Regions from separate parts of the Homo sapiens genome. Here regions 2 and 3 are each linked to region 1. Evidence: fine-mapped expression QTL. A gene starts in region 1. Each other region holds a variant in brackets. All regions are shown on one strand. Distances are from middle to middle.

Evidence for each region.
Region 2: its variant is fine-mapped to the expression of CCR5AS in whole blood (INTERVAL, PIP above 0.99).
Region 3: its variant is fine-mapped to the expression of CCR5AS in whole blood (INTERVAL, PIP above 0.99).

Annotation. Positions count from the first base shown.
Region 1 is chr3:46,402,106-46,410,290 of GRCh38, reverse strand. It overlaps CCR5AS (CCR5 antisense RNA), which reads left to right and starts at 3,225. Exons shown (of 4, transcript NR_125406.2): 1 at 3,225-3,394. CCRL2 (C-C motif chemokine receptor like 2) reads right to left here and starts at 3,032. Exons shown (of 2, transcript NM_003965.5): 1 at 2,789-3,032; 2 at 768-2,223. The coding sequence starts at 2,211. The coding sequence ends at 1,177.
Region 2 is chr3:46,219,826-46,228,010 of GRCh38, reverse strand. It overlaps a transcript of CCR3 not described here. Among named protein-coding and RNA genes, the nearest start is that of CCR1, 16 kb to the right of the region's middle. RefSeq lists an enhancer at 6,174-6,343. The variant C/A (reference allele first, on the strand shown) is at 4,884.
Region 3 is chr3:46,361,272-46,369,456 of GRCh38, reverse strand. It overlaps CCR5AS (CCR5 antisense RNA), which reads left to right. Exons shown (of 4, transcript NR_125406.2): 4 at 4,412-5,473. Among named protein-coding and RNA genes, the nearest start is that of CCR5, 5.6 kb to the left of the region's middle. The variant A/G (reference allele first, on the strand shown) is at 4,370.

The DNA.
Region 1 (8,185 bases):
TCAGTGCCAAGCCTCCAGCTCTCTTTAGTGCAAGCAAGATGCTGGGCCAGCAGGAGGAGGCAGCCAGCCCAGGCCCTATGTCTGCAGGACTCAGCCGGGAGTGGTGATTGTCCCCTGGCAGCAAGGCCCTGGTAGCTTTGAGGCCTCAAAGGGCCAGAAGCAAGATTATAAAGAGACCAGTGAGTGTGGAGTCCAATTCTGAACACCAGGAACAGGAAAATGTTTTTAGGATCAAGGATGCATCATCCTTACGGATCTGGGGGGTCTCCGGGGAGGTAGCTCACATGTTGAGGTGACCTTCTGCTGATGTGGCAGGTGGGAGCCTGTGTTCTACTAACTCAGCCACAGAAAGGAAGTGGGACAACCTTTTGTAGTTATGTGCTGGTGAGGCCTGAGGTATGTGTTATACTTAAAAGGACAAAGCATTCATTTTGTTAGACATTTCTAAACATAATTTCTCATTTGCTTTTGTTAAGTCTCCTAAGATTCCATAGTCTTGATAAAGTACGAGAAAATACCAGAAACCTTGGGTTAGGGGAAGCTGGGGGCCTAGGGGTGTGGCAAGTAAGCAAGAGAATTTAGAGAACTTCGACAGAACAAGTTACCTTACCTCTTTTTCCCACAGCTTCCAGCTAGCTAGTTCTTCTCATCACCGGCGAGGCAATGAGCCTGAAAAGTTACTCCCATATAAATGGGCTGTCTATAATTTGGAATGTAGTTAAATTGGTTTTAAAATCAACTTACAAATTATTTTAAAATACATTAAATAGATGTTTTAAAATACATTTATTTCATGTCGTTTGTCCCCAGGGTTTGGAGTTTGATGTTCTGGACCAAGCGTAGGCTCTGAGCAAATGCTACCAGGGCTGGAGAATCAGTTCTGCCACTTCCTAGTTATGTGATCTTAGACAAATTTCCGCGCCTTAGTTTTCTTCTCAGAGAAATGAGACTAGTCCTATCCACACTATGGACAAGTGGTAGGAGGCGAAGGAGCTCACGTTTGTAAAGAGCCTTGCACGGTGCCTGAGACAAATTCAGTGCTTAGCAAATGTTAGCTCACCTCTCCCTTTTCTTCCTGTATCCGATTTTGTATACAAATGTGTAGAAAATTTACATGAAATAATGCAGAAAGATGAAAATCCATGTTTATTCTTCTTGCATTTGGTGGATGCTAGTTTACACTTCGGTGGAATGGTCAGGTTCTTCCCTCGATGTGCCTTGTGCAGACTGCCCCCTGGGTTGAAGTGGGGTGTTACTACGCAGATGGAAACAGCGGCAGAGGTATTTGCTAAATGTCCCATCAAGAAACGCATACAGGAGAGGGTTGATGCAGCAGTGGGTGGTGGCGATGAGTTTAGTGATGTGAACACTTTTGTCCAGATTGTAGCTGCTCTTGCAGTCACTCAGGGAGAAGTGTTCTTTGAAAGTGGACAGGAAAAATGCAATATTGTAGGGCGCCCACATCAGAAGGAAGACTACCATTATGGCAAAAACAAGCTTGAAAAGGCTATACCTCTGCTCCCTGAACCTTAGTGTTTTTCTCATTTGCACATAGAGAAATGTAAAAATAAATAGGGGGAGGACAAGAACCGAAATGTTCATTTTTAAAGTCAGAAAATGCTTCCAGAATGTCTCATCAGCTGGCAGGAAGGGAGTTCTGCTAAATGCACACTTGTATTTCTGGTCTTCCATCTGAGGTTTATAAACCACGAATTCAGGCAAAGTGGCCAGAATGGCTGTTACCCATGCCAGGACACTTGTAATGATGCCACAGGGCACCCTCCTCCTGGCTGAGAAAAAGTTTCCCTTGTGCAAAAACACTAGGTACCTTTGCACAGTCAGAAGGCAATTGAAAAATGTCTCACTGTACAGGCCCACGAAGTACAGTCCAATGAGAATTTTACACATGGGATCGCCCCCAGCATGAGCCCAGAAGGGCAGGGTAAGCAAGAAACACAAGTTAGAAACTGCCAAGTTTAGAAGATAGATATTTTCCACGCGTTTGAGTCCTTTATATTTTACCAGGATAAGCACAACCAGGAGATTGTCCAGGACACCGATCACAAACACAGCAGAGCAGAGTGATGGCACCAGCTGGGCTGAGAGTGCCTGGGCGTCATACTTGTCACATTGCTCTGCCTCATCGCTCTCCAGTTCACCTTCTATGAGGACATCATATTCATCCTCTGGTGCCAGCGTGTAATTGGCCATCTTCAGACTGCCCTGTGGAGAAATGGGAGATGATTTTCCCCTCCGACAGCTGCCTTATCCTGGAGGAAACAACAAACTGGACCTGGATTCATACAGCCCCACTTTCCCTTTCTGGAGCTACATTTTAGCCAGAGTAATTCCCTATTTCAGAAGACTGAAATAAACATTTCTTTAACGTGTGCCCACTTCCCCAGAGCAGCACCATTCCCAATCTAGTTGTTAAGCATGTAAGTGCTTAGCAGTGTGCCAGGTGCCACGGGAAATAAAGCTGGCATGACACCGCCTTGGTAGAACTTACCTTCTTTTAGCAGAAACAGGACTTGCCTACATGAACACAATATGTAAGAAAATATATAATTAAAGAGAACCAAGTACGATGGCTTACTTTTAAGAAACGGGTGTAGATCATAATTTCTGCATTTTAAAAAGTTTGCTCACCCCCCGAAGCAGCTTCCTGTGACAGCTGAGACGTTTTTCTCTCGAAGGGTATAAATAAATGTTTGCAAAAGTGAAACCATGCTCAGCATCAACATGGCCATAAGGGGTTAAATACATAGATGACACACAGATGACTTACCACTGGGCTGAGCTCCTGCAGGGGAAGGGCGCAGCCTCCAGACCCAGCATCCGGGAGCTGTGGGAATGGCCCCGGACAGTGGATGCCCTCCTTTTGATCAGACTGCTCCTGACCCTGAGGGGCACGAGAAACCACTGTTGATTCCCCTGGTGGCTCTACCCGCCCCACTCACCGAGCTCAGGGACCAACTGAAATAAAGTACTCAAAAGCTCCCCCAGGCCTCCAGAGGATCTCTGAAGCGTCTGAAAGCAACCGGGAAGTTGTTTCCTCCTCCCTCTGGCCCTGTACCCCGCCTTTGATTTCCCTGTGACCTTTGACAGCCGTCTTCTGGCCTTCTGAGATAAGGGAACTGTGTCACTGCCGCTCTGAGTGGTAGCAAGGAAGTGATGTCAAGGTGCTGAGAACTGCCAAGACGCTCTGGCTTGTGGCATGTGACACTCTGAGTAGGTAACAGGTACCAGCTACTGTCAGCAGGGAGGAAGGTATGTGGTGACCACGAGTCCAGACCTGAGGGTCCTGACCCTCTAATGCGGCCTCTCACCAGTGTTCGCAGAAACCCACCCGCTGATTCAATACGGGGACCAGGAACCTGCCATGACAGTCACGGTGTGTTTGGGTTTTTATTGTCATTTTTGAGGGGCACTGTGTGCTTTGGTTAAGACTGAGGCCTCAAAAGAGAATTTTAGGAAAATGGAAGCCACAGGGTGATGTCAGCTGGGAAAAGGCCAGGGGCAGAGGTGGGGTCTCAGCGGCAGTGAGCATAGGGCTGCCCTGGGTGTCAACACTGAGGAAAGCAAAGGGGTTTGCAAGCAGCCAGAAGTGATTGGTGCTGTGACTCATGGGGGAGCTGACCCCACTCGGAAAAGGAGAACCCAGAGGAGGAAAATCCCGTGGTGATGACACAGAGGCGACATCAAGTTGGGTGGGAGAGAATGTGAGGAGGACAAGTTTAACCCCAAACTGAGGCTGGGGGCTAGGGTAGGTTTGAGTCCAGAGAGAAGGAAATTGAGAGAACAGCCCAGATTTGGAATGGTGGGAGGAGGCTGTGGGGAGGGGAGGCTGTGGGAAGAGAGTGGGACGGGGAGGGCACGGTCTGGAAGAAGGACGAACCGAGAAGAGGAACTTGAAAATAATGAAAAAATCTAGATGAGCTTCTCTTGGGTCAACGACTCAGCAGCTGTGACTAACCTAATTTGGGGATCAGACCTATTTGCTTAGAATTTATATATTGATTAAATGACATCCTTTTCCCACCAAAGATGTGTCTGAGGTAGGATTGAATACAAAATTTGTACCTGTCAAAATAGAAATAGAAAATTAAGAAACTAGCCTGGCACTGAGGCGCATTCCTACAGCCCCAGCTACTCAGAAGTATGAGGTGGGAGGGTCGCTTGAGCCCAGGAGTTTGAGGCCAGCCTGGGCAACATAGTGAGATCCCGGATCTATAAACAATATAAAAATTAGCCAGATGCAGTGGCAAGTGCCTGTAATCCCAGACATTCCAGAGGCCAAGGTGGGATGTTCACGTGAGCCCAGGAGTTGGAGGCTGCGGTGAGCCATGATCATGCCACTCTGCACTCTGGCCTGGGTGGCAGAGCGAGACACTGTCTCTGGAAAAAAAAAAGAAGAAGGAGGAGGAGGGGCGGGGAGAGGAAGGGAGGAGAGAGAACTATTAAGAGAAAAATAAACACAGAAAGAGCCCAGACAAATATGTGATTGAGCATTAAATTTAACTCCACGTGTGCCGACAGACAAGGCAGAAAGAGAAACACAATGATGTTTGATGGCAGAGGAGTTGGTGCTGGTGGGAACCTAAGCTGTAAGTGCCCTCTCCTCTCTTGTGTGGGTCTCCTGTGAGTGAGTGAGTGGGGGTCATGGTGCCCTGGGACACTCTTCCCACCCCCTACAGCCTGGGATCAGCAGTGGCCCCTCCTCCTGGGTCTCTCCACCTCCTGCAGCTGGGCAGGACACTCAGGATCTTGAATGAGTAGGTGCGGGCAGCTTTACTCTCGATACTCATGGATCAGTTCCAGGAAAAGGAAGGAAAGTCAAGTCAGACTTTGAAACTTGCAAAACGCTGGGAGTACGCACACTCTTCCTCATTAGTAGAGGACAAAAACAGCAGTCAGGCACCTCATGTACCGCATGTCACAGAGTCATGTGAGATGTGAAATTTCCCAAGTAAAAACACAGAATCATGTGAGGTGTGAAATTTCCCAAAGAAAAATGTTTTGTAAATTCAGGATCACCCTGGCTTACTAATATTAGCATGACCTTCACTTTCAGTATTATTTTATTTTTGCCTGATTCCCAGCATTCTGCCTATCCACACTCAGGCCATGAGGTCCTTGAAACTTCTACATAGGAAGGAAGGAAGAGTTTAGAAGGCTGCAGTTGAGGCGAAAGGAAAGTTCTCTTTATTATTCTCATATCTGAAGCCATAATAGGGCCTCCTTGTTTGTGAAACGACATCACATTCTGCAGCCTTGGCAAGTGGTCCACAAAGCTTACCTCTGAAGGTCTGAGTTCCTCTTTATCACTATAATTTGACCCCAGTTTTAGTCGAAGGAACTATCACTGTATACTCTCATTCCCCACTACGTGTAGATCACTCATTTACTTAATTCAATTATTCAGCAAGTATTTCTAGAGTGCCTAGCCTGTGCCTAGCTCTGTTCCAGGTGCTGGGGATGCACCAATGGACAAAATAGGCAAAAATCCTGACCTTCACAGAGCTCAAGTAAATTGTAGATTAGTAGGAGAGAAGTGCTATGGAGAAGGCGAAGCAGGGAAGGACAGCAAGAGAGGCCAAGGTGGCTCAGGGATCACATTTTAAATAGTGTAGTCAGAAAAAGCCTTGCTGAGAGCTGGCTGTGGTGGCTCATGCCTGTAATCCCAGCACTTTGGGAGGCTGAGGTGGGTGGATCACTTGAGGTCAGGAGTTTGAGAACAGCCTGGCCGACATGGCAAAACTTCATCTCTACTAAAAATACAAAAATTAGCCAGGAGGGGTGGCGATGGGTGCCCGTAATCCCAGCTACTCGGGAGGCTGAAGCAGGAGAATCACTCGAACCCAGGAGGTGGAGGTTGCCGTGAGCCAAGATTGTGCCACTGCACTCCGGCCTGGGTGACAGAGTGAGACTCCATCTTAAAAAAAAAAAAAAAAAAAAAAAAAGAGAGAGAGAGAGAGAGAGAGAGAGAGAGAAAGCCTTGCTGAGAAGATGGGCACTAAAGCCACAAATGGTTGGGTCCAATAGTTCATGATCATTGTCTCATTCTTTCTTGTCACTAAGTTCTTATATCAGGGAGGTTGAAAACACACACTGGGTGATAACCTTAGCAATAATTTTACCGAAGACGCAGACATATTCTTCTTAATATATTGACCCTCAATAAAAAAGGCAAAGGATGTGAGGCTCCAGTTACTGATTTATCGCCTTTCAGCTCTTCATTCACTCTTCTGTGTTCTGCTTTGTGAGTCTAGAGCTGGACCCCATAAACATTTCTCCTTTGCCAGTTGCTGTAGAAGGCATAAGAGGGTCGCAGTAAGAGGCAGAGTTTTTTCTTTCTGGTTCTGGGATTTGTTTTTATTTTGTTTTTGTTCTTTTGGCTGATTTGCCAGTGCTGGGTGGAGACCCTGCAGTGCCCACTCCTCAGTGAATTTTGCCGACACCACGACAGTGGCTTCCTGCTGACTTTTGCTGGCACCCTACTGGGTAGCTTCCTAGTAAATTTTGCTGGCACTCCAAGAGCGTCTTCCTCGCCAGAGGCATGCCCACATTCTTGGGAATCTCACTGGTACCCCTTCGGGCAGTTTCCTGCTCAGCAGCCCCAACCTGCCACAACTCTGCAAACTTCTTGGGCATCCATTGGGTTGCAGCCACACCCCCTCCAACAAGGGTGGATCAGCTGGGGAGGGAGGGCATTTTTTGAGTTCGCCCCTTCCTTGGCTGCTGTGCCTTAGCTTAGAGGTTATGGCTGCTCTCTACATCTGCCATTCCTGCATTCTTCAGCATTCTCCTTACCCCCTTTAGTAGTTCATACCCTTTTATAAGTTAATAACTCATTATATTTAATGTTCATGTGTGGTTTCTGTCTTGACTGTATGCTGATTGATACACACAACATTAAATTTAGTTCAGGGAAGGGATGGGGAAATGCTAGGATGATGCCTTTTTTAGAGATCTAACTTGATCTTGAGAAATAGGTATTAGATCAAAGAGCTAAAAACAGAAATCCCATTACTGGGTATACACCCAGAGGAATATAAATCATTCTACCATGAAGACACACGCATGTGAATGTTCATTGCAGCACTATTCACAGTAGCAAAGACATGGAATAAACCTAAATGCCCATCAATGACAGATTAGATAAAGAAAGTGTGGTACATATACACCATGGAATACTATGCAGCCATGAAAAGAACGAGATCATGTTTTTTTGTGGAAACACGAATGGAGCTGGAGGCTATTACCCTTAGCAAACTAACACAGGAACAGAAAACCAAATACCTTGTATTCTCACTTATAAGTGGGAGCTAAATGATGAGAACACATGAACTCAAAGAAGGGAACAACAGACACCGGGGTCTACTTGAGACTGGAGGGCGGGAGGAGGGAGAGGAGCAGAAAAGATACCTATTGAGTACTGGGCTTGATAGCTGAGTGATGAAATAATTTGTACAACAAACCCTCATGACAAAAGGTTACCTACGTAACAAGCTTTCACATGTACCCCAGAACCTAAAATAAAAGTTCAAAAAATTATTGTTTAAATGCATAATAACAAATTTGGAAAATTTCAAAAAAAGAGAAATAGGTATTAGAATGTTTAGACTGATGATAATTTAATCTGTCCCTTACTATGGCTTCTTCAAATATAATCTTTCTTAGATTATCAATTAGTCAATCCATCTATCTAATTTTTATTAGCAAATAAAATGTTACAGAAAATTTGTATAGAGAAAAACTATGATAGTGATAATCTCACATAATAGCCATTATAAGTTTTAAATACCACTGCTTCTTAATGGGAAATGTAGAAAAACTACTTTTAGAAAACAATCAATTTTCTTCTGAATTAGTTGTTTGATATTGAGTAGTAGATCAAAGAGGTAAATAATGGCATATAATTTTAAGGCTTCGGAGACCATCTTATCCTGCCCCCAGATTTTCTTTCCCATAATTGGCTGATCCCTAAAATTCCACCTCAGTACCCAATAATTAGTAGCTGTGATACCTGGGAGGGCAGATAATATTTCTAAAATACAGCTGTGTTGATAATCCACCCTGGAAATACAGATTTTATATGTACTTACTGGGAGTGAAATAGTGTTGACTATTCCCTAAAGCAGTCTTTCTCAATGCATGTTGAGTTTATTCCGCAGTATGCTAA
Region 2 (8,185 bases), 180 kb after region 1:
CTAGGAAGGGGCTTCATATAAAATGTAGATACCTTCACAACGAATACACTTTTTCAAGTACCTATGGAACATTCACCGAGATAAACCATATGCAGGGTTTTAGTTTTTTCATTAAAATTATGCCAAGTATGTTCTCAAGCCAAAGTGGAATCAACTAAAGTTTAATAACAGAAAGATAACAGGAAAATCTCTAAACACTTGAAAATGTAAAAACACTTCTAACTAATTTATGGGTCAAAGAGGAAGTCTCAAAGGAAATTTAAAAATATACAGAACTAAATGAAAACAAAATAATAATATATCAAGGTATGTGGGCTGTAGCTAAAGCAGTTCTGAGAGGAAAATATGCAGCGCTAAATTCTTCCATTAGAAAAGAACAGTCTCGCATCAATAATCCAAGTTCTTTCCTCAAGAAACCAGAAAATGCAGAGCAAAATTAACTCAAAACAAGTAGAAAGGAGACAAAAATAAAGAGAAAATATAAATAAAATTGAAAACAGAAAAACAGTAGATAAAAATCAAAGAAACTTCCATCACAAGGGATGCAAGAGAAAAAAAGGCAAGGAAACAAAAAGCCAGTTTTTCAAAAAAATCAAGAAAAGTGATAAACCTCTAGCAAGACATACAAGAGAAAAAGAGAAGACATAAATCACCAATATCAGAAATAAAACGGGATATTACTACAGCTTCTTCAGCCATTAAAAGGAATAATAATAGAATACTATGAACTACTTTATTATCATAAATTCAACAATTCAGAAAAACTAGTTTGTTGAATATTGACATAGATAAAATATCTATGACAGAGTGATTTAACAAAATGTTTCAGCTGGGCGTGGTGGCTCAGGTCTGTAATCCCAGCACTTTGAGAGGCTGAGGCAGGGGCTGGGATTACCTGAGGTCAGGAGTTTGAGAACAGCCTGGTCAACATGGCAAAACCCTGTCTCTACTAAAAATACGAAAAATAAAAAAATAGCCAGGCATGGTGGCATGCACCCATAGTCCCAGCTACTCAGGAGGCTGAGGCATGAGAATCGCTTGAACCTGGGCAGCAGAGGTTGCAGTGAGCCGAGATCATGCCACTGCACTCCAGCCTGGGCAAAAGAGCAAGACTCCATCTCAATTAAAAAAGAAAATATATATATATATATATTTCACCTATTCATGGTAAACACTCAGCAAACTAAAAATAGAAAGACACTTCCTCAACTTGATAAACAGCATTTACAAAGAGTCTAGAGAAAACATTATACTTGATGGAGAAAGAATGAATGTTTTCCTCTAAGATCAAGAACAAAGCAAGGACGTCTACTCTCACCACTCCTATTCAACTGGAAGTTTAAGCCAGTGCAGTAAGACAAGAAAAATAAATAAAAGGCATACAGATTGGAAAGGAGGAAATAAAACTGTCCCTATTATTTAGGAAAGACATAGCGGTCTACATAGAAAATCCCAAGGTCAGTAAGATTGCAGGAACAAAACCAGGAAACAAAAGTCAATCACATTTATATGTACTAAGGAACATGTGGAAGCCAAAATTAACAATTTTTGTGCCATTTTCAGTTGCTCCAAAAAGCTTTTAGATGATACTTAGGTATAACTCTAGCTAAGTATGTACATGACTTGCATGCTGAAAACTACAAAATGCTGATAAAATAAATCAAAGAAGACCTAAATAAATATAGAGAGATATACCATGTTCATAGATTAGAAGACTCAACAGTAAAGATGTCAATTTTCCCCAAATTAATCCAAGGTTTAGGGAAATTTATATTATAGAAATTCCAGTGAAATTTTTATAGCCATTTGTAAGCTTATTATTCTTAAGTTTATATGGAAAGTCACAGGACCTAGAATAGCTAAAATAATTTTGAAAAACAATAATAAAGTGAGAGGAATCACTTACCTGATTTCATGACGTATTATATAGCTACAGTAATCCAGATAGAGTGATATTGGCAGAGAGATAGACATACTGATCAAAGAACAAATAGAGAACTCAGAACTAGACTCACAAATATGCTTAACTGTTTTTTGACAAAGGTGTAAAGCCATTAAATGGAGGGATAGTCTTTTCAAAAAATGGTGCTTGAGGAATTGTACATTCGTAGATAAACCAAAAAACAAAATGACCCTCAGCCTAAACCTCACACCTTATACAAGAAGTAACTCAAAAATGCAAACAACATATCTAACAAAATATTTGTTTAGAATATAAAGCATTCTCAAAACTCAAAAGCAAAAAAGCAAAAATTCCAATTAGAAAATGGTCAAAGATATGCACAGACATATCACTGAAGAGGATATACAGATAACCACTAAGCACATACAGAGATGTTCAATATCATTAGTCTTTAGGGAAATGCAAATTAAAACTACCATGAGATGTTACTACATACCTATCAGAATGGCTGAAATAAAGAATAGTAAAACAAACACTGGCAAGGATGCAGAGAAAATGAATCACTCATACTTTGCAGCTGGGAACATAAAATAATACAGCCATTATGAAAAAGAGCATGGCACTTTCTTACAAAACTAAATTCGTGCTTACAATACAACCCAGCAATTGTAGCTGGGTAATCCCGAGTAGCTGGGATTACAGGCAGGTGCCACCATGCCATGGACAATTTACCTAAAAAATGTTCAAAGATTTAAAGATTGAGATGGTAAGATGCCTAATGAGTTAATGCCTAAATCTTAAGTTTTTGCATGTGCACATACCCATGTAACCACCAGTCAAGACATTACTAGAACCCCAGAATGTTCCCTAGCACTTCTTCCCAGTCAGTACCCACCTCCATAGAGGTCATGTCTATTTTATTTCTATCACTGCTGATCAGTTTTGACCATTATTGAATTCATTATAAATGAGGTTATGTAGCATGCAGTAGCAATAGTTTGGTCTTTTATATTACTATATATAGTATTCTCTCATATGACTAATTTATCTGTTTTACTACTGATAAGAATTTTGGACTATCAGTTTGAGACTATTATGAATAAAGTTACTAACAACATTCTTGAACACATCTTTTGGGTTTATGTGCACTTCTCTTGGGTATTTACCTGGAAGTAGAATTGCTGGGTCACAGGGAAAGCACATGTTTAGCTTTACATACTGCTAAACAATTTTTCAAGTGGTTGTACCAATTTATACTTGCACCAGCATGGTGTGAGAGTTCTCATTGCCTCATAACCTTTTTAATACTTGGTATTGTCTATTGTCAGGGTTTGTTTTTTGTTGTTGATGGCTTTTTTTTTTTTTTTTTTTTTGACAGAGTCTTGCTCTGTTGCCCAGGCTGGAGTGCAGTGGCATGATCTCGGCTCACTGCAACCTCCGTCTCCCAGGCTCAAGCAATTCTGCTGCCTCAGTCTCCCAAGTAGCTGGGATTACAGGTGTGTGCCACGATGCCTGGCTAATTTTTGTATTTTTAGTAGAGACAGGGTTTCACCATGTTGGCCAGGATATCTCAAACTCCTCACCTCAGGTAATCTGCCCGCCTCAGCCTCCCAAAGTGCTGGGATTACAGGTGTGAGCCACCGTGCCCAGCTAATTTTTGTATTTTTATTAGAGATGGGGTTTCACCATGTTGGTGTTAGCCAGGCTGGTCCTGAACTCCTGGCCTCAGGTAATCTGCCTGCCTCAGCCTCCCAAAGTGCTGGGATTACAGGTGTGAGCCACCGTGCCTGGCCCAGGGTTTGGTTTTTTGTTGATGTTGTTTTGCGTTTTTTTCATTTTAGCCATTCTGGTGGTTATGTGCTGCTGTCTCATTGGTTCGTCTCATTAAAACCAGTGGTTTTAATTTGCATTTCTCAAATGATTAGTGATGCAGAGCACATTTTCACATACATGTTAGTTATTTGGATATCCTCATCTATGAAGTTTCTAATCAAGTCTTTTGCCTATTTAAAAAACAAGAGGCCATTGGTCCTTTTCTTATTAACTGGCAGGAGTATTTAATCGATTTTGTATATGCATCCCTTTATTTGAAAGAGCTCTCCCTGAGCTGTTTCTGGCTGTGGGCACTCATGCTGCTTTCTACCCAGCTCCTGGCACACCCTGATCACACCCGATGGAGACTCTATTTACCGACACCTCTGGGCTTATGTTTCTGAACCTGCTCAAGTCATCCACTGTCCTCTAGTACCTCTATCCATGTCCCATACCTGCACCAGCACCCTGTCCGTGGCCAAGTTTCAGGCAAGCCATGGGATCTAAAATGTCTCTCTCCCTTCTTTGTCAGGAGCCAAAAGAATTCTTGCTTCCTGAAACTGAGGCAGGCTGAAAGGGAAAACAGATTGATACAAGTGACACGTGATAATGTCACTCTGAATAAAAGAGGTCAAACTGTACTTATCAATAGTCACACATACATACATGCACACACACACCTGCATGCATGTACACAACATGCATGCACACACACAAGCATCAACTTTAATCAGCAAGTCCTTACACTGACCACCTCTTATATATATGCATCTCAGTGCTGGGTACTGTGGAAAACATATGAAAAAGGATTGGGCATGGGCCCAGCAGCTGAGAAGCTTACAATTTAGCTGGAGAGAAAAGATGTAATACAGATAACATGATATAAAATGCTGTGTATTAGACTGTATGTAAGCCCAGACTCAAAAGAGATTTTATTTGTTTGTTTGTTTGTTTTCAAGACAGAGTCTTGCTCTGTCACCCAGGCTGGAGTGCAGTGGCACGATCTCGGCTCACTGCAACCTCCACATCCTGGGCTCAAGCAGTTCTCCTCCCTCTGCTGGGATTACAGATGTCCACCACCACACCCAGCTAATTTTTGTATTTTTAGTAGAGACAGGGTTTCACCACATTGGCCAGGCTGGTCTCGAACTCCTGACCTCATGATCCA[C/A]CCACCTCAGCCTCCCAAAGTGTTAGGATTACAGGCGTGAGCCAACACACCTGGCCTCAAAAGAGTTTTAAAACTTGGCATGCAAGACTGTAAGTGTTAACTTGGGCTGGACCTGGACAGGGAGTTTTTAGAGCACTTCCTTAATATACTTTCTCCTTCCCCTTTTTAGCATGAAGGGTTTCTTGACAATTTTCTTGCACATAGGAGACATTCAACAGATGTTTACCAGTTTGACTGAGGCATAGGATGAGGAAATAAATAGCCACGTAGCTCCCATCGGCTGAACATTTACCAAGTGCCAGACACATATTGAATCATATTTAATTATTGCAACAATCCTGAGAAAGAAATATTACTCTCACTATTTTAAACGTGGGGAAGCTGAGGTTCTGACAAGCGGTAAATAAAAATGCCCAAGGTGGCATGGCTGGCATCTGAGGGCTGTGCCAGGTCTGGTGTGCTGGAGGACTTGCTGCCTGTGGCAAGGTGCTGCCATTGTCTGTTGCTTGAACAAGGTGAGGAGCGCAGCATGCCTGGCCATGCATGATGTCTGAAGTTAGAGCCCAGGACCTAGGGCACTAGATCTGTGGGGTGGGGCCCTGAAAGATTAAGGGACTCTGGAGGTTTTTCTCCTGAGTTCTCTACTAGCCTGGCAGTACCCTTCAAGAAGAATCCTAGGGCTTCCTGATAGGTAGCTTCAGAGGCAAGGCAGCAGCAAGAGGGCGACAAATTAAATAAGAGAAAGTAACGCAACCAGGCTGCCTGTCAGCCCCTGTAACTTCTCCAGATTATCATACTGGACCCATCACTTGCCCAGTCTAGCTAGAAGTTCATCTATCCCCATGAAACCCCCATCTCCCCACCTCCACCATGGCCATCCAGGAATGCCCTAGGTGTGCCATACTCTGTGGCTGCTGTGTTGATATGGATTGGTGGTGTGGCATGATACATGGTCCTGCTTCCTCTGTCTCACTGCTCTGAAACAGGAATTCAGACATGGGTCCTTTGATGTGGAGAGTGTCACGCCTTATTGTCCTAGAGAGTGGGACAGCCTGGGAGGCCTGCCTATCTGACCTTCAGGGCTCCTGCCCAGTCCTCAGGGGGAATCTTCAGTGCCAGTTTGTGTGGAGGAAGCCTGTGGGAAATTGTGTGGACAGCAGTGGCAAGAGAGGGGCTGGGGAGGGACTAGGGGGCACACGGGAAGAGGAAAGGCAGGCAGAGCTAAGTGAGGGGTGGCGGCCAGTCAGGGGCCCAGACACACTCCTTCATGGACCCCCTTCTTTGTCTTCAGTGGTCTTGGGTAGGTCTGCTTTGCAAGGGGCAAAAGAACACAGGATGATCCTTTGGAAGAAGTGAATGTGCATTTCAACAACCGGAAACCTGCCAGGGGTTCTTGGAGGAAAGCAAGCTCAAAAATGAAGGCTTAAGCAAAACAAAATAGCCCACCCCGCAGAATAACCCACAGAGGGAAAAGGAAGACAGGAATAAGACTAAAAGTCTAGAAAAGGGAAGTGCAAATTGGGTTCAAGATGCCTCAACTGCAGGCAGAGCCGTGTGGTTTGAACTGTTTGTGTGACTTGAAACATAGCCCAGCCAAGGTCAGGACCTCTCTTTGTGAAGGATTGGGCTGCGGGGGGCATGTGAGGGGTGCATCTTGCATGTGCAGGAATACCCCTACAACTAGGGAATCAGGCCCCAGCTGCTAGTGGGAAGAGCAGATATTCAAGTAAAAGCTATTTCTGCTGAAACCAAAGATTTATATAAACTCAGATACAGTATTTGTTGCTGTTGTCAGATCCATTTGTCCTTGAAGACTTAAGATGAAAGAAATGCAAACATCTTCCCTGTACATTCATGGCCTATAGGTACTCTGCAATGGTGTGCTGGTAAATGTTAACAACCAGCTTTCTGGAGGAAGAATCAAAACAGGCACAACATGCCTGATATAATAGCATCAATTTCCAGTTTCCTTGGTGTAAATACTCTCCGTGGCCAAGTTCAAGTTGTGAACTTAATATCACTAAGGCGAAGGTGGGTCTAACAGAGTTTAGGTAACCATAATAACAGAGTTTGTTGAGTTTACATTATTTGCTAAATTCTTCATGTGCATCATTTTATTTTATTATTTCAATAGTTTTTGGGGAACACGTGGTGTTTGGTTACATGGATAAGTTCCTTAGGTGTGATTTCTGAGATTTTGGTACCCCCATCACCTAAGCAGTGTACACTGCACCCAGCGTGTAGTCTTTAATCCCTTGTCTCTTTCCCACCCTTCCGTCTAAGTCTCCAGAGTCCATTATGTCATTCTGATGCCTTTATATCCTCACAGCATAGCTTCCACTTATAGGTGAGACCATAGGATGTTTGGTTTTCCACTCCTGAGTTACTTCACTTGGAATAATGGTCTCCAACTCCATCCAGGTTGCTGGGAATGACATTATTTTGTTCCTTTTTGTGGCTGAGTAGAATTCCATGGTATATGTATATCACATTTTCTTTATCCACTCGTTAGTTGACGGACATTTACTTTGGTTCCATATTTTTGCAATTGTGAATTGCGCTGCTGTAAAGATGCATGTGCAGGTGCCTTTTTCATTGTAACGACTTCTTTTCCTCTGGGTAGATACCCAGTAGTGGGATTGCTGAATCAAATGGTAGTTCTACTTTTGGTTCTTTAAGGAATCTCCATACTGTTTTCTATAGTGGTTGTACTAGTTTACATGCCCAGCAGCAGTGTAAAAATATTCTCTTTTCACCACATCCCTGCCAACATCTATTATTATTATCTATTATTTTTTGATTTTTTAATTATGGCCATTCTTGCAGGAGTAAGATGATATTGCATTGTGGTTTTGATTTGCATTTCCCTGATAATTAGTGATGTTGGGCATTTTTTCATATGTTTGTTGTCCACTTGTGTATCTTCTTTTCAGAATTGTCTACTCATGTCCTTAGCCCGCTTTTTGATGGGATTATTTGTTCTTTTCTTGCTGATTTAAGTTCCTTGTAAATTCTGGATATTCACCATTTTGTCAGATGCACAGTTTGCAAAGATTTTCTCCCACTCTGTGGGTTGTCTGTTTACTCTGCTGATTATTACTTTTGCTATGCAGAAGCTTTTTAGTTTAATTCAGTCCCATCTATTTATCTTTGTTTTTGTTGCATTTGCTTTTGGGTTCTTGGACATGAACTCTTTGCTTAGGCCAATGTCTAGGAGAGTTCTTCTGATGTTATCTTCTAGACTTTTCATGGTTTCAGGTCTTAGATTTAAGTCTTTTATCCATCTTGAGATGATTTTTGTC
Region 3 (8,185 bases), 41 kb after region 1:
AGACACCCCCACCCCCGCCCCATATAGGGACATATGTCTGTGCTACAACAGAGCTCAGTAACATAATCATAACAAGGACAGCGAATCATCGAGAAAATGTTCTAGTTCATCCCATATGTGCAATTCAAAAGGCATTGATTAAGAACTGCAGTCATGCTGCTGGGTTTAACCTCCAGCTTCATTACTGCTACTTGGCTCTGACCAAATTATTGAAGCTCTGTGCCTTAGTTTTCTTAACTGTAGAGTGGAGGTTTTAAAAAAACCCAAATACAAACTTACTCAATATGCCTGTGGTGGAGAGGGAATGATAACAAGTGTAGAGCCTTTTGGGCACCCACCCTCGGGGGACTGTTTAAGCAGGGAAATATAAAGTGTGCTTTTGAAAGAGTTCAAAAATAGGTAACAAATAAATTAATATAAAATTTTATAGAAAATAGATAGCATAAATACAACTTTGGTTTTTCGAAAGATAGATAGCCTTGTATTCACTGGTAATCCACTTGTGCAGAACCCCCGGAGGCTGCCGGACCAACACTGTATTTCTGTTTGTGGCAATTGCTGGTTCTTACTTTCACCATGCAGAGCTGAGGCTTTGCCATGTTCTGTTTGTCTGTCATTAGGGTATTGGAGGATGTGAAGACATACTCACCCCCAGAGGGCAATGTGGGCTAGCGGAGCAGGCTCGGAGTCACACACGCTGTGCTGCTGACTTGCTGTGTGACCTCGGCAAGATACTTCCACTGCCCAAGCTTCCATTTCCTCATCTGTTAAATGACGTGCTAGACCTGGGGCAGCTTCCACCCTAAATACTACATGATTCTATGGCCAAGTTAGTTTGAAAAATATAGGCTAGATGGGAAACAAGGTGAGGATTCACAGGCTGAAACAAGGAAGCACAGCTTTGCAGTGTGCGTTACTCCACTTTTGTGTTTCTGGTCCAGAGGTGTGTTCTAGTAACCACTCAGGACAGGGGGGTTCAGCCCAAGGATTCACAAGAAAGTGGGGACCCATGGGAAATTCTTCAGCATTTAAATGAAATGTTGTTCTGGATACAATAATGACAACAAGCTAGCAGCTTATCATGCTGTGACTTAGTTGCTTGGTGTCTGCTACTCTTTCTACTTTGTCCCTCTCAGTTTGCATGGCTCTTGTTCTCTTTTTATTATTAAGTACATTCGGACACCCCATAGGAAATGAACTTTTGATCACTTTGTCACTCTAGACTCCATGCCCATATTGGAGGGTGTTTCGTGCCATCCCTCCTTTTTGGGGCCTTTTTGTCTTTAAACAGCTGCCCCATGTCTAGTCACTGCACCTATGTTCCAAGCATTGCTTTGCTGTCTCCTTGCTCACACCATTTCTGGACCATATTTTCAGAGCATCGTCAACAGGATGGGGAGAATGTTAATTATTCACTTTGGGTGCAAGGGCCAACTACATGAGCACAGTGAGCAGAAACCCTGCCATACAGCAGCTGTTGTGAAAATCCCTGGGGCCTGAGTTGACTCCTGGTCAATATCAGTCAACAGTGAGACGGGCTGTAAAAAGAGCAAATGAATCTTTTATTTTTAAAAACAAATGTCTAGGCCAAGTGCGGTGGCTCATGCCTATAATCCCAGCACTTTGGGAAGCCAAGGCGAGTGGATAACTTGAGGTCAGGAGTTTGAGACCAACCTGGCCAGCATGGTGAAACCCCATCTCTACTAAAAATACACAAAATTAGCTGGATGTGGTGGTGCGCCCCTATAGTCCCAGCTACTCAGGAGGCTGAAGTGGGAGAATCTCTTGAACCCAGGAGATGGAGGTTGCAGTGAACCAAGATTGGGCCATTGCACTCCAACCTGGGTGACAGCAAGCTGTGTCTCAAAACCAAACCAAACAAACAAAATGTCTAATTATAAAACCAACACATGCTCATTGTATAAAATTGGGAAAAACAGAAAAAAGGAAAAACTTAGGTACATTCTCACAGTATCAAAACAATGTCTTTTAAAACATGATGTTTCAATCCTGACTTTTCCCATGCACTTTTCGATTAATTGTTCTCATGCATATACCATTCTGTAGGCGGCTTCTTTTTTTTTTTTTTTTAGCTAAAGATTATAGTGTAGACATTTTCCTATATTATTAAAAAATTCTTTATAAGTGTAGTTCTTTATTATTTTTATTGAGGAAGAACACACTTAGTGGTACAGCTTGGTGAGTTTTGATATGCACACATGCATGTAACTACCACTCCGGATCAAGATGATAAGGAACATCCCTATCACTTCAGAAGGTGCCTTTTGCTCCACCCAGAGGTAAGGGCCACTCTGTCTTCATAGAGATTAAATAAGCCTGTCTTTAACTTCTATAAATGGATTAAAGATACTGTCCTCTTTCCTGTCTGGCTTCATTCATTCAACAAAATAGCCTTAACTATATTTAACAGAGCTCCGTCATTGACAGTCGGGCTCTTCCCGTTGTTCAGTAGACAGTCGGGCTCTTCTCGGTTGTTCAGTCATGTGAGCAGTGTCACACTGATTGTCACCATCAGTGCTCTGACATCCCTGTCAAGAAGTACACTCTTCCTGTCCCTAGAGCCACCTTTAGCAGGAGAGCCAGGGAGTCCCCCTGATCCTCACAGAAATAGGAAGAATCTACCCCCATCCAGTGCCACGCTTTGTTACCCATGTGCCTCAACAATGACACTTGAGTCTTATGACACCCACCAGGTGACAGCCTCTTTACCTTCTGCCTCAGACACCTATCATCGTGGGTGGGTTGGGAACTCACCATGCTGTTGTCTCCATCCCTGCCTCTGTCCTGTAGACCTTTCCCAGGGTAACCCACTTCCCAGCCCATGAACCACATCCCCCATAGGGATTTGTGCAATTCATCAAACCAAGTGGACATGTGCAGGCTGTCTACCTCATGGATTCATTAGATAGGCTCAAACCTGGTGGGAGCCCCTTAGCTCAGCTGAGAAGTCTTCTCTATGCATTTAGGGGATTTCTTTCAGATCGGTGTCTAGGCGTGAGGCTAGTGCCATGTAGGTACAGTAACAGATGTCTAAGCTAACAGTTCAACAATACAATAGACTCACTGTGATCTTAAGTGAGTCAGATCATACCTGGAGCTCTATACTCAGCTCTGCACATAACACGAGATTATGTAGGGCTTTTCTGGTTGTCCCAGAACTAGCAACTATGGCCTAAGGCTGAAGGCAAAGAAGTGTTATGCACTCACAGTTCCAAAGAAAACCACTGACACCTGGGCTCAGACACCTCTCCCAGGGCTTACTAGAAGATGACAGCACCAGCCCTGTATCCACACCCATCACATCAACTCCTCTCACTCCAGTCTGTATACGGAGGCAATTAGGATAATGAATGGATTGTAGAAGTGGGCAGGATTGGTGGGGAAGCGAGTGAGGGCATCTCTCCTCAAAGCCAAAGAAAGGGGCTCTGAAGAAACCATATGAGGAATGGGGACTTGCAAAAGGAGAGGCCAGCATGGGTGGGGCCCCCACTGGGCAGCAGACAAGCTGAGCAGGGGGAGTGGGGATTGGAGAGAGTTAATAGGGGTAGAGATAGGGTGTGTAAGTGAGGCTGCAAGGATCAAGAGTGCCCCTGGGTCAAGTGGCTACCACAGGAGGGAACTGGGCAGGAACTGTCACATTGGGTCCTACTTTCTGGGTGAGATGAGCCCAGCACCCAGAAAATGGTGGGTTGGAAGAAGTCAAATCAAAGAGAGATCTCACATATCTAGATCCATTTGGAGCCCCCACCATATCTAGGCCCTTGGATGTGACCACACAGTGTGCCTGCCACTCTGGGGCATCTTGACCAACACAGAGTGGACTGTGGCAGTGGCCAGTTAGCTAAAGAGGTTCAGGCACACCTTGGTGAGATTGTGAGTTCAGCTTCAGACCACCACAGTAAAGCAAATATCTCAAAAATAACCTTTTTGGTTTCCCAGTGCATATAAAAGTTGTGTTTATCCTATACTGTAGTCTATTAAGTATGCAATAGTATTATGTCAGAAAAACCAATGTGCATACCTTAATTAAAAATATTGTATTGCTAAAAATGCTAACCATCATCTGAGCCTTCAGCAAGTCATAGTGTTTTTGCTGAAGAGGATGGCGGTCTTGTTTTGATGTTGATGGCTGCTTACTGATCAGGGTGGTGGTTGCTAAAGCTGGGGGTGGCTGTGGCAATTTCTTAAAATAAGATGACAATGCAATTTGCCACCTTGGTCGACTCTTCCCTTCACAAAAGATTTCTCCATACCATGTGATGCTATTTGATAGCATTTTACCCACTTCTTTCAAAATTGGAGTCAATCCTCTCAAACCCTGCCACTGCTTTATTAACTAAATTTATGT[A/G]ATATTCTAAATCGATTGTTGTCATTTTAACCGTGTTCACAGCATCTTCACCAGGAGGAGATTCCATCTCAAGAGACCACTTTCACTGCTCATATGTAAGAAGCAACTCTTCATCTGTTCAAGTTTGATCATGAGAGTGCGGCAATTCAGTCACAACTTCAGGCTCCACTTCTAGTTCTAGTTCTCTTGCTGTTTCCACCACATCTACAGCGACTTCCTCCACTGAAGACGTGAACCCCTGAAAGTCATCTATGGGGGTTGGAATCAATGTCTTTCACACTCCTGTTAATGTTGGTATTTTGACCTCCTCCCATGAATTACAAATGTTCCTAATGGCATCTAGAATAATGACTACTTTCCAGAAGCTTTTCAATTTGCTTTGCTCAGATCCATCAATGGAATCACTATCAATGGTAGCTATATAAACTATATAAGGCTATATATATATATATAGCTATTTCTTAATAGCCTTATGAAATATATTTCTTAATAAGACTTGAAAGTCTTGGTCCATGGACTGCAGAATGGATGTTTGTGTTAGCAGGGATGAAAACAACATGAATATTCTCGTACATCTCCAACACAGCTCTTGATCGACATGGTGCAGAGCAGTAATATTTTGAAAGGAATCTTTTTTTCTGAGCAATAGTTCTCAATAGTGGGCTTGAAATATTCAGTAAACCATGCTGTAAACAGATGTGTTGTCATCCAGGCTTTATTGTTCCATTTATGGAGCACAGATAGAGTAGATTTCGCATAATTCTTAATGACACCAGGATTTACAAAATAGTAAATGAACATTTACTTCAACTTAAAGTCATCAGCTGCATTCACCTCTAAAAAGAGAGTCAGCCTGTCCTGTGGAGCTTTGCAGCTTGCCTTGACATCTCCTCTCTAGCTGTGAAAGTCCTGGATGGCATCTTCTTCCAACATAAGACTGTTTTGTCTACACTGAAAATCTGTTGTTTCGTGTAGACACTTTCATCAATTATCTTATCTAGATTTTCTGGATAACTTGCCACAGCTTCTCCCTTTGCACTTGCTGCTTCATCTTGCATTTTTATGTTATGGAGATGTTGTCTTTCATTAAACCTCACAAACCAACCTCCGCTAGCTTCAAACTTTTCTTCTGCAGCTTCCTCACCTCTCTCCGCCTTCATAGCATTGAAGAGAGTTAGAGTCTTGCTCTGGATTAGGCTTTGACTTAAGGAAATGTTGTGGCTGGTTGGATCTTTTCTCCAGACCACTCAAACTTTCTCCATATTAGCAATATGGCTGCTTTGTTTTCTCTTCATTTGCATGTTCCCTGGAGTAGAGCTTAAATATCCTTCAAGAACTTTTCCTGTGAAGTCGCAATTTGGCTAACTGGTGCAGAGGTGAGCTTTTGGCCTTGACTTTCAATATGTCCTCCTTACTAAGCTTAATCATTTCTAGATTTTGATTTAAAGTGAGAGACGTGGGACTTTTCCCTTCACTTGAACACTTAGAGGCCATTGTAGGGTTATTAATTGGCTTAATTTCAATATTATTGTGTCTTGGGCTGGGCACAGTGGCTCATGCCTGTAATCCCAGCCCTTTGGGAAGCTGAGGCAGGTGGATTGTTTGAGTCTAGGAGTTTAAGGCCAGCCTGGGCAACATGGCAAAACCCTGTCTCTCCTAAAAATACAAAAAAAAAATTAGCCGGGTGTGATGGTGCACACCTGTAGTCCCAGCTTGGGAGGCTGAAGTGGGAGAATCACCTGAGCCTGGGGAGGCAGAGGTTGCAGTGAGCTGAAATCACATCATTGCACTCCAGCCTGGGCAATCAGAGTGCGACTCTGCCTCAAAAAAAAAATATATATATATATATATATAATTGTTATAAATATATATATATATAATTGTTATATATACATTATTGTGTCTCAGGAACAGGCAGTCCATGGAGCAGTCAGAACACACACAACATTTATTGATTGTTTGCCATCTTACATGGGTGCACTTCATGGTGCCCCAAAACAACTACAATAGTGACATCAAAGATCACTGATCACAGATTACCATAACAGATATAGAAATAATGACAAAGTTTGAAATATTGGGAGAATTACCAAAATGTGACACAGAGATGTAAAACAAGCACATGCTGTTGGAAAAACAGCACCAATAGACTTGCTCGAGGCAGGGTTGCCACAAACCTTCAATTTGTAAACAACAACAACAACAACAAAAACAATATCTGTAAAGCACAATAAGACAAGGTATGTCTATATTTGCCCTTTTTCCTAACACTCCTCTCCCACTTCTCAATGCTAGTCCATGCCTAGAAGAGGGAGGTACAAGAATTCCCCACAAGGTAGACCACTAGGCACGTGCTGTGGAGGATGGAGCAGGAGGGGACATAGGGACAGAATGCACCCCCTCCTCTAGGCAGGGCCCTCCAGAATCCAGTCAACCCTAAGGCCCCATTGAAACAATGACTGGAGAGAAATGAAATAATTTCATATTGTGAGCTGATTACATTAGGATGTGTTATAAGGGATAGTATGAAATAAGATGTTAGTCCATGCCCTTACCCTTGCTTGCTGAGCTGCTGGGCCTGCAGAGCCTTTCAGGTGCTGGGAGGGAGAGGTTTTTCCCAGCATAACCCTCGGCTCACATCTCACTGTGGCTCCAGGCTGGGGCTGCCAAGGCCGGACCTTGCATTACAGGACTCTGTTTACACACACACACACACACACACACACACACACACACACACACACACAGAGTGCCGAAGTGGCAATGTCTGAAGAAATTTCCAGCCTCATTCCTCCCATGCCTGGAACCAATCTCTTCTCCTCAATTCATGCACTGTCTTCCAGAGGTCAGCTCACCAGCCCATACTCCTTCTGTCACAGTGTGGCCCCTCTGGGTGGCCCTTGGTGGTTTTTCCTGTGGGCTAATCTCACCTGAAGCCTTTTCAATTTGTCAGGGAAGTTTTCATAATGAGCAAAAACAAAAGAGGAAGGAAGGATGGGCTCTTGAAGGTTTACTTTCTGGAGGCTTCGGGGCCTCTTTGCAAAATGCTCCAACCTCCCCAGCTGCTGGGGATATCACAGATCAAGGGAGGTGGCATGGGGTGGGCTATGCCAAGACCCTTCCTTACCAAAAAGTCTTCAGACACTCATCCCTCAGAATGATGATGAGGGATCATCATCTTCCACCTGCTTAACTCGAACAGCCTACTCAAATGTCCCCAGAATAAACGAGACTTGAGGATTCCACTTTAGAAAGAGAGATGGTTGGCATTTTTTTTTTTTTTGAGATGGAGTCTGGCTCTGTTGCCCAGGCTGGAGTGCAGTGGCCCGATCTCGGCTCACTGCAAGCTCCGCCTCCTGGATTCATGCCATTCTCCTGCCTCAGCCTCCCGGATGGCTGGCAATTTTTAAATGGCAGTTTCTTTGGCAGCAATAAAATCCTGCTGTGGCTGTTATTCCTATGATGCAAGACTGTCATTGCATTAGTCACTCTGTCCTCCAGGCTCTCAGCACTTTTCACAGATGCCTCTGTTCCTGCTCTGCACAGCGCACTGTGACTGTGCACAGGACCTTCTCTACCCCTCCCACTCCACAGCTGGCCCTGGACTTGGAGGTGTAAAGGACACTGGCATTAACATCTGTCTTTCTGTTTCCAACCCAGTCTGGCATAGGTAGACCCTCCGGGATGCTTGTCATATTGAATTCCATGATTGAAAATAAATGGATAGTTTTCCAGATTCTATATATGAAGTCACTATATACCACATGTCTTAATCGGTTTTTGTGCTTCTTAACAAACAACCCCTAAAACTCAGTG